Regions from separate parts of the Homo sapiens genome. Here region 1 is linked to region 2. Evidence: fine-mapped expression QTL. A gene starts in region 2. The other region holds a variant in brackets. All regions are shown on one strand. Distances are between the middles of the regions. Region 1 overlaps GRIN2D (glutamate ionotropic receptor NMDA type subunit 2D). Region 2 holds the start of GRIN2D (glutamate ionotropic receptor NMDA type subunit 2D).

Region 1 (4,000 bases), 27 kb after region 2:
GTGAACCACCACACCCAGCCACCTGTGAGTTTTGAGTAAAGCATGGGTGCTTGAGAGAGTGATCAGGACAGAAAGGAGAGTGTGACAAGGCTGAGTGGCAGGGACTTTGTCCTGGGGGTGCTAGGGAGCCTGGGGAGGGCTGTAAGCAGGGGAGGGGCCAGGTCCTCTCTGTGCTGTGTGGGGGATAGGCTGTAGGGGACAGACAGGAGCTCAGGAGGCTGGGGAAATGGTTGGTGGGAGGAGATGAGGCCTGAGCCCTGTTGGCCATGAGAATGGAGAGGAGAGGCCCAAGTAGCATCAGGGGCAGGAGCGTGGGGCTGGATACTGACAGGCTGTGGCCAGCGAGGGAGAAGGAGGGAGGAAGGGAGGACGGCAAATGAGGTTTGGGCCTGTGACTGGGTGGATGGTGGGGCTCCCATCATGAGGAGCGTGGGAGCTGGTCTGGGCTCAGCATGGGACATGATGAATGGCCTGAGGAGATGGCTGGGGTAGGTGGAGGCTTGGGCCTGTGACTCAGGAAACATTTAGGAGACAGTTTCTATTTGGTGGCTGAAACCACAGAAATGCCTGCGACGGCTCTCTTTGAGAATGGCTGCCTCCTAGGGGTATGGGTGTGCCATAAGACTATCTTGGAGATGGAGAAGCAGAGATAGGGCCAGAATAGGATGGGGTCAGATCTGGGCTGCACCTTGTTCCCTGCTGGTAGTACCCTAGGGTTTTTTTTCTTTCTTTTTTCTTCCTTTTTTTTTTTTGTAGAGACAGGGAGTTCAAGGCCAGTCTGGTCTTGAACTCCAGGCGTCAAGTGATCCTCCTGCCTCAGCCTCCCAAAGTTCTGGGAGTACAGGCGTGAGGCACCGCCCCAGCCTGATCCCCGAGTCTTTTGCTTGGCTGAGCCATAACCACGCACTCCCTTGTCCCCAGAGCCCTACAGCCCCGCCGTGTGGGTGATGATGTTCGTCATGTGCCTCACTGTGGTCGCCGTCACTGTTTTCATCTTCGAGTACCTCAGTCCTGTTGGTTACAACCGCAGCCTGGCCACGGGCAAGCGTGAGTCCCCCTTCCTCCATCCCCCGCCTCGGAGATCCCGAACCACAGAGACAGAGAACTACATTTCCCAGCAGCCCCTGGAGGGGGGGCGGTCAAGCTAGGGCCTCTCGGGAGGTGCCAGATGCCTTGAGGGCCACTGGGAATTGTAGTTCTTTCTTTTTTTTTTTTTCCCTTCCTTATTGAGAAGGGATTTGGGGTCCATGTCCACGTCCTGGCCCCCTGCAGGCCCTGGCGGTTCAACCTTCACCATTGGGAAATCCATCTGGCTGCTCTGGGCCCTGGTGTTCAATAATTCGGTGCCCGTGGAGAACCCCCGGGGAACCACCAGCAAAATCATGGTGCTGGTGTGGGCCTTCTTCGCCGTCATCTTCCTCGCCAGCTACACAGCCAACCTGGCCGCCTTCATGATCCAGGAGGAGTACGTGGATACTGTGTCTGGGCTCAGTGACCGCAAGGTGTGTGTGGGCCCAGGGCTGGGCTGGAGCTGGGGCTGGGGCTGGAGGTCACAGAGCTTGTCATGTGGTAGATTAGAGGGGATTCTTGCGGGGGGCGGGGGTGAGAGGGGTGGGGGGAGGGCGGGAAGGGGTCTCTTCCCAAGGAGAATTCCAGAATGGTAGAATGGAATGTTGTGGATGAAGAAAGAACACGGTTCACGATGAGCTATTTAAAATATTCCTAGGGAAGAGGGTGTCCCTGAATGTTCTAGGGGCAGTTGTGTCAAATAGGATATTCTAGAACCAGTGCTTCTCTCAAACTGTGAGGAAGGATTAATTTTTGAAACTTCTAAGGCTGGGCGCGGTGGCTCACACCTGTAATCCCAGCACGTTGGGAGGCCGAGGCGGGCGGATCACGAGGTCAGGAGATCGAGACCATCCTGGCTAACACGGTGAAACCCCGTCTCTTCTAAAAGTACATAAAATTAGCCGGGCGTGGTGACAGGCACCTGTAGTCCCAGCTACCCGGGAGGCTGAGGCAGGAGAATGGCGTGAACCCAGGAGGCAGAGCTTGCAGTGAGCCGAGATCGCCCCACTGCACTCCAGCCAGCGCGACAGAGTTAGACTCTGTCTCAAAAAAACAAAAAACTGCTAGTCCATTGCAGACAATGCTTTTGTAAAATTCAACGGAAATGAATTATTAGAAAAGTAAAATAAGATCTAAAACCAAGACAGACAAAAGTCAAACCTGGCCAGGAACGGTGGCTCACGCCTGTAATCCCAGCACTTTGGGAGGCCGAGGTGGGTGGATCACCTGAGGTCAGGAGTTCGAGACCAGCCTGGCCAACATAGTGAAACCTCGTCTCTAATAAAAATACAAAAATTAGCCAGGCGTGGTAGTGGGTGCCTGTAGTCCCAGCTACTTGGGAGGCTGAGGCAGGAGAATC[G/A]CTTGAACCCGGGAGGCGGAGGTTACAGTGAGCCATGATTACGCCACAAATAGAACTGATTCCTAGCCTGGGTGACAGAGCGAGACTCTGCCTAAAAAAAAGCCAAACTCACATTTTTATTTATTAGATTCAACAGACGAAAAAGAATTCTGTCAAATCACTCTAAATGCTCACTCTCTCCATTCCTGTACACATCTCACTGCAATCACCGTTTGTTGAGGGACTGGTGGTTTGCAGAGCATACTTTGAGACTAAAGTGATTAACTAGCTGGGTGTCATGACCTATTAGAGGCTTGAGAAATCAGTTTGATGGGTTGCAATAAGCATTTTTTAATGGAATGGAGTAGAATAGAATAGTTGCCTGCATCTTATGTATAAGTTTGGTTTTACAAAACTTGTTTTAGTTGTCTGGGCGCGGTGGCTTATGCCTGTAATCCCAGCACTTTGGGAGGCCAAGGCGGGCGGATCACCTGAGGTTGGTAGTTCGAGACCAGCCTGACCAACATGGAGAAACCCCATCTCTACTAAAAATACAAAACTGGCTGGGCATGGTGGTATGTGCCTGTAATCCCAGCTACTCGGGAGGCTGAGGCAGGAGAATCAGTTGAACCTGGGAGGCGGAGGTTGCAGTGAGCTGACAGTGTGCCATTGCACTCCAGCCTGGGCAACAAGAGCAAGACTCCGTTTAAAAAAAAAAAAGTGAACTATTTCTGAACGGATTGGTAAATAGCAACAGCTCCCAGCTCCTGCCATGCCAGCCTCTACTCCCAGGACCTCCCGCGATTCAGTAAGTGAAGACTTAACACCTGGCACATCAGGGGCCTCAGGGAGGCTTCTCGTGAACTTTTGGATCACGTGTCTGCAACCGTGTGTGCTGGGTGGGAGTGGAAAAGCATTCCCTAATGTAGTGAGCGAGTGTTGAGAAATATTGAACACTCCTGGGACTGGGGTGTCTGCCAGATAGCGGGTGTGTCTCAGAATGGGTGATTTATGTTAGGGATGTCCCTGCGGAGGGTGCCCTAATCACTCCCCATTCTGCCCCAGTTCCAGAGGCCCCAGGAGCAGTACCCGCCCCTGAAGTTTGGGACCGTGCCCAACGGCTCCACGGAGAAGAACATCCGCAGCAACTATCCCGACATGCACAGCTACATGGTGCGCTACAACCAGCCCCGCGTAGAGGAAGCGCTCACTCAGCTCAAGGCAGGGTCAGCGCAGACTCGGGCCGGGGGTGGGGGTTGGGCCGCTGGGGACCTGAGGATGCTCAAAGATGGCAAGGGGTCCAGGTTCATTCATTCAGTCCCAGAGGTCAGCCCTGGGTGGGTCAGCTTGGAGGGCGGAGGTCACTGAGGGTGGAAGTGGACTCCTCCTCCCAGGAGCAGGCTCCTTGGGATATTTTCTGGGATGCAGTATTTCTGGATTCTGGGGTGAGACTGATGGGGCTCAAATCTTTGCTCTTCCCCTTCTTGGCTTTGTGACCTTGGGCAAGTTACTCAGCCTCTCTGAACCTCTGTTTCCTCCTCTGTAAAATGAGGATAACAAGAGTATCCCCACTGTAATGATCATAAGGTTGTT
Region 2 (4,511 bases):
GCGCACGAGCGGGACTTCCAGATTTTGAGCAGTAGCAAGATGATGGCGAGGAGGTGGGAGAGGTCTCCCAGGAATCGGAAGAGATTCATGGCTGGGGAACCCTGGCAGGGCTGAGCGGGAGGGAGGCAGGCTGGCGGGGGGGTGCCCCCCGAGGCTGCTGGTCTGAACGGGTAGCTGGGCTGGGGGGACGGAAGAGGGACCCTAGGTGCGCTCCGCTCCGGGGAGGGGACTTTGGGAGGGGGAGCAAAGGCTGGAGCTGGCGGCGGAGCTGGAGCCGGGAAGAGGGAGGAGAGCGAGAGGGGGAGGAGTCCGGGAGGAGAGGCTCCGCCCCCGAGGGCGGGGCCTGGATCCCCGGCGCCCCCTATCGCCCACCTCCTGCTTTGCCGTGGCGGCGCTAAACGCACCCCCAAAGCTGCCCCATAGGAACTTGGGAGGGTCGCAGGGTTCGGAAAGTGCCAAATCCAGCACCGGTTCGCCCAGGCAGTCTGTGTCTCTGGAAGAGACGCAGTCCAGTACACCAGCCTCAGCCCTTGCAGGGATGTAGAGACTGCCCTCTGAGCTTGAAAAATCCTGCAGGGACCCGGAGGCTCAGCTGCTAGCTTTTGCAGCTTTCAGGCACTCTAACTCCAATCCCCCAGAAGACAAGAAAGATACCCCACCTACTTCCTCCCCTAGACCCAGGACTCAAGGCCCCAGCCCGTTCGTCAAACCCAGAAGTCTGGGTCCCCAGCCCCTCCTCCCTCAGACCCAGGAGTCCAGACCCCCAGCCTCTCCTCCCTCAGACCCAGAAGTCCAGACCCCCAGCCCCTCCTCCCTCAGATCCAGGAGTCCAGGCCCAGCTCCTCCTCGCTCAGACCCAGGAGTCCAGGCCCCCAGCCTCCTCCCTCAGACCCAGGAGTCCAGGCCCCCAGCCTCCTCCCTCAGACCCAGGACTCCAGGCCCCCAGACCCTCCTCCCCCAGATCCAGGAGTCCAGGCCCCCAGCCCTTCCTCCCTCAGACCCAGGAGTCCAGACCCCCAGCACCTCCTCCCTCAGACCCAGGAGTCCAGATCCCCAGCCCCTCCTCCCTCAGACCCAGGGGTCCAGGGCCCCAGCCCCTCCTCCCTCAGACCCAGGGGTCCAGGGCCCCAGCCCCTCCTCCCTCAGACCCAGGGGTCCAGGGCCCCAGCCCCTCCTCCCTCAGACCCAGGAGTTCAGGGCCCCAGCCCTTTTCCCTCCTAGGACGCTGTTCCTTGGAACTTAGGGTCCCACCCCCACCATCTTATGGATCAAACATCCTAACCTTAAGAATCTAGATCTACAGTTTCTCCCTTTACGACCCACAGATTTAGGCCCTGATTCTCTTCTTTTTCAGGAATGTGCACCTCACCCTGTTCTCCCAGACCTTGAGGATGAAGGAAACAGGAGCCTCACCCAGGAGGCTCAAGGCCAAAACTCTGACCCAAACTACCTCAGGAGCCCCTGGCCCTGGCTTCCCCCCTGCTCCAGAGTTTCTGCCCTGCCCACACACACACACCCTCTTCCACCCTCAGAGGCCCCGGTGTCCTGCCCCACGCTCTACCCCAGAGCCCCACGGGTGGCTTTATAAAAGTGCCGGGCCCAGCCCTCTAGCAGGAGGGGAATGCTGGGCATCTGGGTGTGGGACCCCCGGGGAACAGCCTGTGGTCTGGACTCCTGCATCTATGAGGGGACAGACGTGGCTTCCCTTCCGGATGATGGGGTACCCACAGATGATGGAGGCCAGGGTCCCTCAATAAAAGAAGGGGTGCAGGCGTGTTGATTTCTTCAGAGGGCTGGAAGGACGGGGTGCCCAAGGGTGACATCCACGAGTCTTGGGTCCCTGAGGGTGGCTTGTACGGGGGAGAGTCGGGATGACTGAGTCCTTAAAAGAGACTCCGACTTGGAGGCGGTCCCCAAATTCCTGGGTCCCAGTAGAGAAGGGGACTCCTGGGTCTGAGGGAGGAGGGGCTGGGGGGTGGGACTCCTGGGACCAGGGTCGAGACCTGGTTTTCAGGCCTGGCCTTCTGGGGCAATAAAAGCCACAGCTTGGGTCTTAGTGTGGCGAACACTGAAGTCAGGGAAAGGCCTCCTGTTTCCAGAGCCTCAAGGCAGGGCGGGGGCAGAGGGCAGCAACCCCCAGCCCTGGAGTCTAGCTCTGAAGCTGGTGTCTCCATACCGGGTTCTGAGTCCCTGCCTGCCTGTCCCCAGCCTGACTTCTTCCTCCCTTTTTATTTTCAGCCCCTCACTCCCTTGTCCCAGGAGGAAGGCAGAGGCTGGTAGCTAGGGGTGGGGGGCGGCCCCCTCCCCAAGCCTGGCAGGAGAAGGGGTCCCCAGGGAGGCCAGGAGGGGGGGCTGTGGGTCTCCCGGCAGTGGCAGACGGGGACTGAATGTTAATCGCATCCCGAGTGAGTGTGTGTGTGCGAGAACACAGCGAGTGTGTGAGTCCCTCCCGCTCCAGCTCCTCCAAGCCGCGGCCGCCGCCGCCACCCTCGCCCGCAGCCTCCCGCAGCCTCCCTCGGCCACCGGTGCCTGCTGGGGGTGTTGCCTGGGTAGGTCGGCCCGGCCCCCAGGGGTCTCTCGAGCGTCTGCCATCTGCCCGGTGAGGATCTGTGTGTCCGGGTGTCTGGGGCTGGCTGGTGGAGGGGGGGTGTGTCTGTAAGCGCTGCGGCGGCGGAGGGAGGGAGGGGTCTGTCTGTCTGTACCGACCCTGAGCTGCCTGCCTGGGTGTCGTGGGGCTCCCGCTCCTTCCCCCCGGCCCCCCCAAACCCAGATGGATGGTGTGTACCTGGGTTCTGTGCCTCCTGCCTGCGTCCGGCCAGGCGTCTGGGCGTCCCCGGCTGCCTGTGTCCTCCTGTCTGTCCAAACAGCCCCTATCAGCAGTGGCAGCCTGGCCCCCATTAGACCCCCCACTCTGTGTGTGTGTGTCTGTGTGTGTGTCCCTCCTCAAGCTCTGGGGGTGTTGAGGGGGAATCCCAGGGAAGTGAGATCGTGCGTGTGTGCGTGAGTGTATGTGTGTTTCTGCCTGTGTTTGAGAGTGGGGGAGTCAAGGGGGGGTCTAGAGGTGGCCAAGCGAGGAAGGGGCAAGCAGTTCCCCAAGCAGGCAATCTCCCGCTCCTCACACGCACACACCAGCCACTAGCTTCAGAGGTGACCCAGACAGACAGATAGACACAGACGCTGGAAGGGGGGGTGGGGGGGCTGAGGGCACAAAGCGGGGGTGCGAGTGAGCCAGGGAGAGGCGGGACTGGACACATGGAAAGGGGGGAGGAGCCGGGGCTGAAGCGGCAGAGGGGGGCACCCCGGGTGGGCGGAGGGGGGATCCCCACGGGGTCGGGGCGGCAAGAGGACACCCCGACAGCCTCTGCAATGTCCGGGGCCCAACTTCCAGAGCAACATGTGTAGCCACGTCCTCGCCTAGTCCAGGTGGCCGCAACCTTGGGGGAGAGACAGGGCAGGACAGGACCAAGGAAGAGGAAGGAGAGACGGAGCCAGGGACAGACAGGAGGTCCGGGCTGCCGCTGCTGCCGCCACCACCACTGCCGCCGCCCCGGGGCCTGCCCCCCGACATCGGCTCTCTGAGCCCTCCTCGGAATCTTGGGGTCGCTGGACGCCGGGTTCCGGTCCTGGCCCCCCCGCCATCCCCCCAACAGAACAGGGTCATGAAAAGGTAAGGCGGGGACAGGGGATGCAGGGATGGTGGTGGGAATGTGGACCCCCAAATCTAGGACAGAGGAAGTTGGCAAGAAGCCTCGTGGAGGGAGGGGGTTTGAACGGTGGGCAGGGGTCTTGACCCCCACCTAGCTCCCCTGTCCCTCAGGGACTCTCCTCCACCCTCTCTCTCTCCCTCTCTGAGCCCCTTTTTCCTGAGTCCCTACACCTCAGACCTTTCACGCCCCCATTTCTCTGACACTTGGCTCCCTCTCCCCATCCCCACATACCTGATGCCCCATATCCCTGTGCCTCCATCTCTCTATCTCACCTTCTCCCTGTACCCCCCTCCCTGCATCAGTCCCCCCATCGCGAGCCGGTCCTCTCCCTCTCTCCTCTCGCTCTCCCCTCCCATGTCAGAGCTATGAGTCTGCTATTAATACCCCCGCCAAGGACCTTGAGGGCATCCAGGCCCCCAGCACCCCTCGCCCCAAGCTCCCACCCCTTCCTCAAGGTTCTGGAACACCCTTCCAGCCTCTTCCAAGCATCAGGATTCGGGTGGGGAGAGACCGATGTTGTGTGTGTGTGTTGGGAGGTGAGGGGGGAGGAAACGGGATGCCGTCTGCAGCACAACTCGAGGTTGTGGGGGGAGCTGTTGATCGAAGTGGCCGCTCCTCTCTTCTCTGTTGGATGCTGTGGGGGGCAATGAAGACAGGGACACCCTAGGAATTTCTGGCACCCTCCTCCTCCTCCCCGCTTGGGGACAGGCTGTGCTATGTACAGGATCTAAGTGGGGTGACTAGGGAGGCCAGAGCTCGGTGGGGGGGCACCCAGGATGTTGGGAAGGATAGGGTTTGAAACCA

The links.
Region 1: its variant is fine-mapped to the expression of GRIN2D in whole blood (TOPMed, PIP 0.94).

The regions. Positions count from the first base shown.
Region 1 is chr19:48,418,313-48,422,312 of GRCh38, forward strand. It overlaps GRIN2D (glutamate ionotropic receptor NMDA type subunit 2D), which reads left to right. Exons shown (of 14, transcript NM_000836.4): 9 at 922-1,047; 10 at 1,273-1,502; 11 at 3,473-3,633. Among named protein-coding and RNA genes, the nearest start is that of GRWD1, 26 kb to the right of the region's middle. RefSeq lists enhancers at 355-1,121, 872-1,111, 1,172-1,411. The variant G/A (reference allele first, on the strand shown) is at 2,429.
Region 2 is chr19:48,391,270-48,395,780 of GRCh38, forward strand. GRIN2D (glutamate ionotropic receptor NMDA type subunit 2D) reads left to right here and starts at 2,399. Exons shown (of 14, transcript NM_000836.4): 1 at 2,399-2,599; 2 at 3,389-3,667. It overlaps KDELR1 (KDEL endoplasmic reticulum protein retention receptor 1), which reads right to left and starts at 282. Exons shown (of 5, transcript NM_006801.3): 1 at 1-282. The coding sequence starts at 89. RefSeq lists a silencer at 119-438.